3 separate regions of the Homo sapiens genome follow, and regions 2 and 3 are each reported to be linked to region 1. The links are microRNA targets in miRTarBase. Many come from high-throughput screens and were not tested one by one. Region 1 holds a microRNA gene; each other region holds the end of a gene's coding sequence. Distances are from middle to middle.
Evidence for each region. Region 1 holds the annotated microRNA hsa-miR-329-3p (AACACACCUGGUUAACCUCUUU, at 776-797, shown strand). A microRNA usually pairs through its seed, bases 2 to 8, with sites in the 3' UTR of a target mRNA and lowers its output. Matches are read on the target gene's strand: a 7mer-m8 pairs with bases 2 to 8, a 7mer-A1 pairs with bases 2 to 7 and ends in A, and an 8mer does both.

Region 2: the mRNA of CLEC14A is a reported target of hsa-miR-329-3p. The part of its 3' UTR that is shown has no 7-base or 8-base seed match.
Region 3: miRTarBase lists MRRF as a target of hsa-miR-329-3p. Seed matches in the 3' UTR shown: 7mer-m8 at 1,815-1,821.

What each region holds. Positions count from the first base shown.
Region 1 is chr14:101,026,059-101,029,152 of GRCh38, forward strand. It overlaps MIR329-1 (microRNA 329-1), which reads left to right and starts at 727; the gene lies at 727-806. LOC124903407 (mucin-2-like) reads left to right here. Exons shown (of 5, transcript XM_047432049.1): 5 at 1-3,094. It overlaps MIR758 (microRNA 758), which reads left to right; the gene lies at 1-49. MIR329-2 (microRNA 329-2) reads left to right here and starts at 1,042; the gene lies at 1,042-1,125.
Region 2 is chr14:38,252,037-38,255,036 of GRCh38, forward strand. CLEC14A (C-type lectin domain containing 14A) reads right to left here. Exons shown (of 1, transcript NM_175060.3): 1 at 1,964-3,000. The coding sequence ends at 2,514. Among named protein-coding and RNA genes, the nearest start is that of CLEC14A, 2.6 kb to the right of the region's middle.
Region 3 is chr9:122,322,208-122,325,207 of GRCh38, forward strand. It overlaps MRRF (mitochondrial ribosome recycling factor), which reads left to right. Exons shown (of 7, transcript NM_138777.5): 7 at 333-3,000. The coding sequence ends at 410. Among named protein-coding and RNA genes, the nearest start is that of PTGS1, 47 kb to the right of the region's middle.

The DNA of each region.
Region 1 (3,094 bases):
TTATTTGTGCCGTTTGTGACCTGGTCCACTAACCCTCAGTATCTAATGCCCCCTTGGAGAACTTCCTGGAAGAGGTGTCAACTTTTTGGGAAAGAGACAGTAAACTGGGGCCAGCTGCACTCTGTTAGACTCTGAAGAGAGCATCTGCGAGGCGTTTGCGACATGTATGCCAAATGTGGCTGAGTTGGACTGATTTTCACTCCGATCTCTTTCCTTGGAGGGCTTCCTAGATGTGGAGGCATCCAAGTTCAAGGGAAGGGGCATGCTGTCTATACCATCCCAAAGTCCTCCAGTGATCAGCTGACCTGAGTGTATGCACTTTAATTTACAACCAAGGTCGCCTGGCCCGTCACACCTCAGTCTCCACTGGGTCCTTAGCAGGACCTTTGGTGGAGTCAGCCTTGCTTTGGGGCATCTGTGCCTCTCTTGAGTAACTGAGAAAAGATGGCCCTGGAGGTTAACCCTAAACGCGATAGCTGCTGTGACCAGCCTTTTTATGGCATCACCACCTCTGGCTGTGATGTCAACTTCCAGACGTGATGTGGGGTCTGCTCCACTGGGGTACTTGGATAGATGGTTGGCAAGCAGCATGCATCCAACTCTTGGCTTCTTCCGGCAAATCAACTAACTAACGCTCAGTGTGCAATTCCATATTTAACAGGACTTCCAGCACTGAATGTCAAGTCTGGGGAAGAATCAGTGGTGTTCTTGTCAGTGTTAATCAGTGGTACCTGAAGAGAGGTTTTCTGGGTTTCTGTTTCTTTAATGAGGACGAAACACACCTGGTTAACCTCTTTTCCAGTATCAAATCCCATCTTGGAGGCCTTCTGGTCCAGACCTCAGCTTCAGGGAAGGGCGTTACTCTCAGCTCCAGTCCACTGGACAGAAATCTATGGTTAACCACGAAGCCTGTGCTGTATTATTTTGACTGATGTCATCTGTTCTACTAACCCCAGTGTCCAATCCGTATTTAACAGGACTTCCAGGACTGAATGTCAAGTTTGGGGAAGGAATCAGTGGTGTTCTTGTCAGTGTTACTTGGTGGTACCTGAAGAGAGGTTTTCTGGGTTTCTGTTTCTTTATTGAGGACGAAACACACCTGGTTAACCTCTTTTCCAGTATCAAATCCCATCTTGGAGGCCTTCTGGTCCAGACCTCAGCTTCAGGGAAGGGGTGCTGTGGACATAAATAAGGAGACACGAGCAAATGGCTGATCACTAAGCGTGCCCCATGTTTCTGAATTTTGCCACCGATTGCGCTAACCCTCAATGTCTTATCCCTTCTTAGGAGGACTTTTCAATGTGATGGCAGCCTGGGGGAAGACAGTGTCACCACGACAGTGTCACGGAACATGCAGGTGAGTTGTCTGTGGTTGCCTTCGTTGTGCTCCCAACGGATCGTGTGTGTAATTCAGGCTCTTTCGGCATCTGACCCTGCTGTAGGGGGATGCCTCGTCCTTGCCACACTCAGTGATGGGCTTGAATGAGCCCAGCCCACAGCAGGGGAATGCCAGCATGCCCTGGACAGATAGTGCAGGTGTCCTGCACGCCTGCCCCTAGCCTGCAGTTTATTCTGAAAGGATGTCCTGGATATAATGACACCTTAGGGAAGAAAAGCTGATTCTGAGGTCAAGAGGAGACCTTGGGGGCCCTGGAATTGGCCCAGGTTGAGACCTGTTTATTTCTCACAGGAATTGTGGAGTTGACTTCCTTTAAATCTGGAGGAATCCTTGATGTCATGCCAGCTTGAAGGGAGGGCATTGTCACCAGCCCTGATCCAGGGGAAGGGAGTGGATGGCCCACCACGGGGCATGTACCTCCCCAGGAACACACCTGCTCCACTGACCAGCACATCTGACCTACCCTCAGGGTTGTGTTTCTGCAGATGGTCCTTCTTTGGGGTGCTCAAGGAGAGGTTTCCTTTGGCATATCTGTTTCTTTTATATAAATCATTTCTGTGGACCACTCTTCAGTATCAAACACCAGTTTGGAAGGCTTCCGGATAAGACAGTTGTCAGGCCCAGGCCAGGGTGAGTGGGCCGAGATGGGTGCTTCCCCTGTTCTAAGCGTCCTGTCTGGCAGTAATGCTTGGTGCCCGATCCTTTCCAGGAGGACTTCCTGGAGGTGATGCCAGCCTCTGGGGAAGGAAAAGGCTCCCTGCCAGCTCTAAAGCCAAGGCACAGAAGTAGGTTTTGCTGGTGCTGCATTTGTTTTGATGGCACTTAGCTGTGACTGTGGGTCCTCGGCTCATCTGTGGCATTTGGGGATGGGACTGTGAGGGAGGAGGGCCTCAGGTTCTGGAGAAGGGCCAGGTATTTCCATGTCAACCCTGCTTTTTATAACCAGAGAGAACATATGAGGTAGCACCAATGACCTCCGCCACCAATCCTTCCTATTAGCTGATACCCAAACACCGTTCCTTCCAGCCGAAAAGAGCCCTCATAAAGAGAGGGCAGAGAGAGTGTGTCAAGGCCATGTGACAGCAGGCAGTATGCTGTTGCCTCCGGGGTATCCAGGGTAGGCGGCTGCTGGGTCCATGTAGATTGGGTGCTCTGCTGGCTACGGAGGGGTCAAAGGACAGGTGGCAAGGGTGCAGAGCCGCAGCCTGGCCCTGGGATTTTCTTCTCAGACCTCTGCTCCGGGGTCCACCTTCGGGGGAAAAGAGGGCACAATTTTACAACTTTGTAAGAGGAAACCTGAAGTTTTCTGACCCCTGATTCTCCCCAGCCCTGTCAGGATTGATCTAACTCTCTGTTGAGATGCAAAAGAGTCTGGAGATAACAGTACTCCCCCCACCATGAAAACAATTATTGTCAAAGGAGTTTTATAGCAAACAGAAAATCCGGCCCAGAATTGGCTAAAACATTTGGGGAGCTCACATCAGGAAATGAGATTCGTTTTTATTTCTTGATTCTGCTGAATTGGATTGAAGGCAGCAGAAGGCATTAAGTGGGATTTGACCTGGAGGAAGGTGGCCTGGCGGTGCTCCTGGCTTCCCCGACCCTCCCTCCCTAGCCGTGTGTAGCAGGCACTCACTTTGCTTACAGCTTCCTCGGTGCCATGTATCTGTTTTTGGAATCACACCTTGCCTGGAA
Region 2 (3,000 bases), 63 Mb from region 1:
TGTACAGCTGTACAATGTGTTTGTGTTTCAAGCTAAGTGTTATTACATAAGAGTCAAAAAGTTTAAAAATTAAAAAGTTTTTAAAGCAAAAAAAGTTACAGTAAGCTAAGGTTAGTTTATTACTGAAGGTAAAATTTTTAAAATAATTTTAGTGTAGCCTAAGTGTATAGCGTTTATAAAGTGTCCCAGGCCTTCACATTCACATTCACTCACCGCTTCCTCACTGAATCACCCAGAGCAACTTCCAGTCCTTTAAAAAGCTCCATTCATGGTAAGTACCCTATACAATAAAGTGTATCATTTTCTATCTTTTATACTGTAATTTAATTGTACCTTTTCTATGTTTAGATCTGTTTAGATACAGAGATACTTACCACTGTGTTAAAACTGCCTACAGTATTCAGTGCTGTAACATGCTATACAGGTTTGTAGCCTAGGGGTGTAATAGGTTATACCACCTAGGTTTTTGTAAGTACGTGCTATGGTGTTGACACAATGACGAAATTGCCTAAAAACACATTTTTCAGAATGTATTCCTATTGTAAAGCAATGCATGACTATGTATACACACACACACACACACACACACACACACACAAACAGTTCAGCTCACTTATAGATAAAGCTATTTTTCAAATTACAAAAGAAAGCATCATATATTCTACTCAAATTTTTACCTTCTCTACTGAGAGATCATGTGAAGAGGAAAGCTAAAACACCAAGATTGAGATGAACTGAGATATACTCTGACAAGTCAGGTTGGGGAACATGGGCAAGCCATTTACTGTACTTATCTGATTTTTAATTTCACTTGTAAAATAATATTTAAAATTCCCCTGAATGTTGTTAATTCTAATTTTTCTGTAATTTTATTTAAGTGTAACTATTTAGAAACATATTTAGTATATGAGGCAAATTACCTATTGTTTCATTCTTTTAATGTTATAATACTAAATATATATATTTATATTTAGGAAATGAATTTATGGATTGAGCTGTTTTAATTTTTTAGTAATATTTTATAATTGGTCACTTACGACTTGTAAGTCTATTTTCCATTGTATACATTGTACACTCAAAAACATTAAAATAATTCTGTGAAAATAAAGTGTAAGCTTCTGTTTTCATTCCTCCCTGTTACTAAGCTTGTTTCTCTGCCTCTCTGCATGCACCAACCCCCACACTCTTAGTTTTAAAGTCTCAGCGTACTAATAAAAGTGGGATATCTTCTAGGGACTTTGATTCCACGAGGCAGTGATTTTTATTATGTCTTAATTATTTTTCATGGGAGTGCTTCATTTAGATTACTTTCTAATACCCCCCAGTTATAACAAGATGATAGATTTTTTAAAATTTGTCACTTATTTCTTATACTATTATTTCTTATGGTAAACTGTTTACCATGCCTTTGCCCATGTAAACACTTGTAAGATTATAATCACTCCAAAATGAGCAAGTATTGTTATTGCACACATTCTTATCAAGAGAAAAAGAAAATGGCTTGGTGTTCAAGTTTTTCCATGGGTTGAAAAATGCACAAGAACTTAGCAACTTTGGAGGAAAACCAGCTTACTTTTTCTTTGATGCAACCAGAAGATTGCAAATCAATACTTAGCATTAACATTTTAATTGAGAATTAACATCACCATAATTGAAGATGAGGATGAGCATCTTGATGTTCAGGAGAGGGCTATTTGCTTGGGGAGGTCATTACGCTGGAAAGCACAAACACTGGAAAGGGAAAACGCAAATTATGTGTTTTCCTTGGGCATGGACATAAAGTAAACACTTGAACTGGTGGTCAACTGTAATTTTCTTCCAGAGCCAGCAATTCTGGCAACACTACACTTTCGATTTATAGCAAAGCACACAAGTAGCAGTGACTTTGAAAAGAAAGGATAAAAGAATCAATGAAAAAGTTACTAGTTCTTAAAGATCTGTGTCTCATTCGAGGAACTTAAGGACCTCTCCCTCAATCTAAAAGCAGAATGCACTCTTGCTGCTTACTCCCAGCATGCCCTCAGCTGTTCCTAATTACTCCTGGAGGAAGGCAATGATATTTGAGTCTGGGTTATCAACAATCCTTTAATTTTTTATTTTTATTTTTTTCCCTGGGATTTCGAACCAATATACTCCTAGCCTGAACAACATAGAACATTTCCTTTCCATTTTGGTAGAAATTATTTTTTAATGTAAATTATATTGTGTTCTATTTGTTTCCAATGTCTTGAAAAGTTCAATCACTTCTCCAAATTCTCCGAATAAACATAAGAAAATATCTCTCCCCAGCACTACCCGGTCCCCCAGTATCACCATCCTAAAGGCACTTCCACTTCCTCTATCATCAGGGAAGGAGTGTGCAGTTCTGATTTAGCTCCTCAGTGGAGTAAAGGGAATTTAGAGGAAGGGGGATTTCTGCAGAAATTGTCAGTTACACAAGTAAGTTCCTCTTGGTTCCCCGTTTCATCAAAAGTGAAAAACTGTTCACAGGAGTGCCCATGTCCCCTGTTTCCCTATGCATCACTAGAGCCAAGAGGGGACTCCGCCAGCAAGGCACCCTCTGCTCTGTCCCGCAGATCACAGTCCCCGACTTTCACCCCATTGTTTGTGCAATGTGCAGAACTGGAGCCCAAAGCAGCGGGCTCAGGATCACTCTCCAGGCCCGGCGGGCCCATAGACTCCTTCCTTGGCTGGGAAGAGGGGCTTTCGTGAAAGCAGAGCTTGACAAGCCCCAGTACTGTCATGGTCAAGATCACCAACACTACTACTGCTGTGCTCACAAATATGAAGACCACGGCAGAGGAGGAGTCGAAAGCCTGAGGAGTGGCAGAGGAAGTCGTAGAATTAAACTTGGAAATCACGCTCCCTGATGGGGTGATAGTGGCCTTTGACTCGGCTTGAAGGGACATTTGAAGGGTAGACATCGTGCTCTGTGATCCCCATCGAGGAATCTCAGGAATAGATGTTACTGAATTGTCTTGTTCAGGGACAAGTGGTGTC
Region 3 (3,000 bases), not on the chromosome of region 1:
AAAAAATTAGCCGGGCGCGGTGGCGGGCACCTGTAGTCCCAGCTACTCGGGAGGCTGAGGCAGGAGAATGGCGTGAACACAGGAGGCGGAGCTTGCAGTGAGCCGAGATTGCACCACTGCACTCCAGCCTGGGCGACAGAGCGAGACTTTGTCTCAAAAAAAAAAAAAGAATGTATATATAAAGTTCTTAGTACAGTGCCTGACTGGTACTTAATGTGAACTTTTGTCACTATTATTATTTCTCACATAACCTTTTCATGTTTCTGGAATATTCATCCCCCTACCCTTTTCCAGCCCCATTAATCAGGCTGTCTCATTTTGTGTTCTTGCAGATCAGCCAAATGGCCGATGACACAGTGGCAGAACTGGACAGGCATCTGGCAGTGAAGACCAAAGAACTCCTTGGATGAAAGTCCACTGGGGCCAGCAATACTCCAGAGCCCAGTTTCTGCTGGATCCCATGGGTGGCACATTGGGACTTCTCTCCCTCCCCCATCTACACAGAAGACTGTCACCATGCTGACAGAAGCCTGTCCTTGTAAGGCCCAGCCTTCCAGGGGAACACTCAGACATGTTCATTCTCTTCCTGCTTCTGCTCTGGGCCGGTGGGTGGCTCTCAGAAAATACTTGCTGCTGGCAAAAGGCCTGTACTCAGGCATTTGCTTTGACTTGATGTTGCCAAGGGACTGAGGCCATTGGCAGGCTTAGTACCACCTGCTCCTCATCTTAGGAGTCTCCTTTTCAAATAATTAGGCTCTGTTCCCATTTTAAAACTCTGATATTGGCCTTCACCTGTGACTGGACACTTTACTAGAGGCCCATTTTCACTAAACAATAAAATCTAAATAAATTGGAAGGAATAACAACCACAAAGGAAAGAATAGAGTTGGTCTGGATTGATGATCACTGAGGATCTGTATGTGAGGCACCCATAACAGTAGTTTTGCCTGTGAGTCGTCTTCACACATGCTGTTTTCTCTGCCTGGCTCTCTCTTCCCCTCCTTACCTGGCCAGTCCTGTTTATCATCAGGCCTTGTCTTGGATATCACGTCCTCTGGGAAGTCTTCTTTTCCCCTCTAACCTAGGACCCTCATTACCGGCTCTCATAGCACAGTCTACTGCTTTGTACGAATTCTAAGTATTCTTGTTGCACTTAATTAGCCTGTATATCCTCAGAACTTTGTGTAATGCCTGGAGCATAGTAGGCAGTCATATGTTGTATCGTGAATAAATTGCACATAGTAGCTACCCAGCAAATGCTGACTTCTTTTCTTTCTAGTCTTAACACTCCCTTTCTATCATTTTCCACTCTTGTACTTGTTCTCAACATTTACTTGGTAGTGACATACCTTTCCTGCAGGGCCTGCCCATTGTTGACAGACAAGTAGTTTATTGTGGCTTATCTTCGGATACTGGGTTATTAGGTTTTTTTCCCTCCAATTATTTTTTATTCATTCATTCATTCCTAATATAGCCATTATGAGTTAGGTATAGTTCTAGGCATTATTTATAATCTTGACAGTAAACTTAAGAGATGTGTATTATCTTCATTTACAAATAGGAAAACTAAGTCTTGACAGTATTAGGTAATTTGCCCAAAGTAACAAAGCAAAGCTGATCAGTGGTAGAAGGTTTTCATGATTCATTGTCAGCGTCATTTACATAGAGGTGAAGTTTCTTGTGCAGGGTTACACACCTAGCAAGTAGCAGAGCTGGCATTCAAATTGAGGCCTGATGTGCTAATGTAAAAGGAAAAAAACAAACTTTTTTTCCTTTTGTACTTTCACACTCAACATGGAACACTTCTGTGACAAGGTGTGTGAGTTTGTTTCCCCCACACACCAAGCAATTCTCCAGCAGACACCAACTGGGTATCCTATAATTCAATTCATTTCTGACATTACCTGGAAATAGTGTCAGATCCCACAGGTTGAGGGCTCCATCTCCCAAGACTGCCAACACTTTTGATGCCAGTCATGAGTCTGGGCCACCCATACTCCTGACTGACCAACTACAAACTAGAGTCCTTGATTTCCTTTGGTTCAGTTAATTTCCTAGGACAGCTCACACAACTCAGGGAAACACGTTCACTGGTTTATTATAAAAGATACAGCTGAACAGCCCAATGAAGGAGGTACACAGGGCAAGGTTGAGGGAGAGGGAGAGGGTGTGGAGCTTCCATGCCTTCTCTGGGCTCACACTCTCTCAGCACCTCACCAATCTGGAAGGAACCACTGTGTCCTGCTGCCTTCATTAGCATTTAGTGAGCACCAATTGTTTGTCAGGTGCTGAACTATGTACTGGCAATACAAAAATGGGAAAGATATGACCCCTGTTTTGGGGGGGTACATAGTGCACTGAACTAAATTGCTGTCTATAATAATCTATTGGGTGGAAAAGTAGGAAGTTCATTCCAGTTCTGCAAGGTGTCTGCTTTCAGAATGGAGCCCACTTTGGTGGTGGCAAGGCCTGGCTGAGTTCTTTCAAAGCAACATCCAACTTCTCTTTGCTCTTTGACTTCCTCCAGATTCTCTCCTGTGCTGGAGGTAATAAGGGTTGCACTTCCCTCTTTACTTACACTGGTGAAACATGCAGTGAGGATTCAAGGTCAAAATTGGGTCAAAGTTAAACTAACACAGTCTCCTGCCCCACTTACCTGTCCTCTAACCCCATCCACCAGCCCTAAGTGGTCATCACATGATCAGAAGTCAGCTGGGGGAAGAGCAGGGATAGATAGAGCAATTAAGGAGCCTCTTTTGGGGTAAGCCACATGACAGGGGCTTTGCAACAGTCTTTCATGAGTGGCCGAAATCCCCCACTCACTGCAAATGTGCTTCTCAAAGATGCAGGATTTTTTAATAAACAGAGGAAATGATAAATTATGTTGTAATTCCACTCCAAAGGCATTTGGTTCTTAACAGCCAAATCCTCTGTAGTCTTTAAATAAACAAAAACTTATTTGGTGAACAGACAGGGAGGAAAATGAAAGATTTTCTGTAC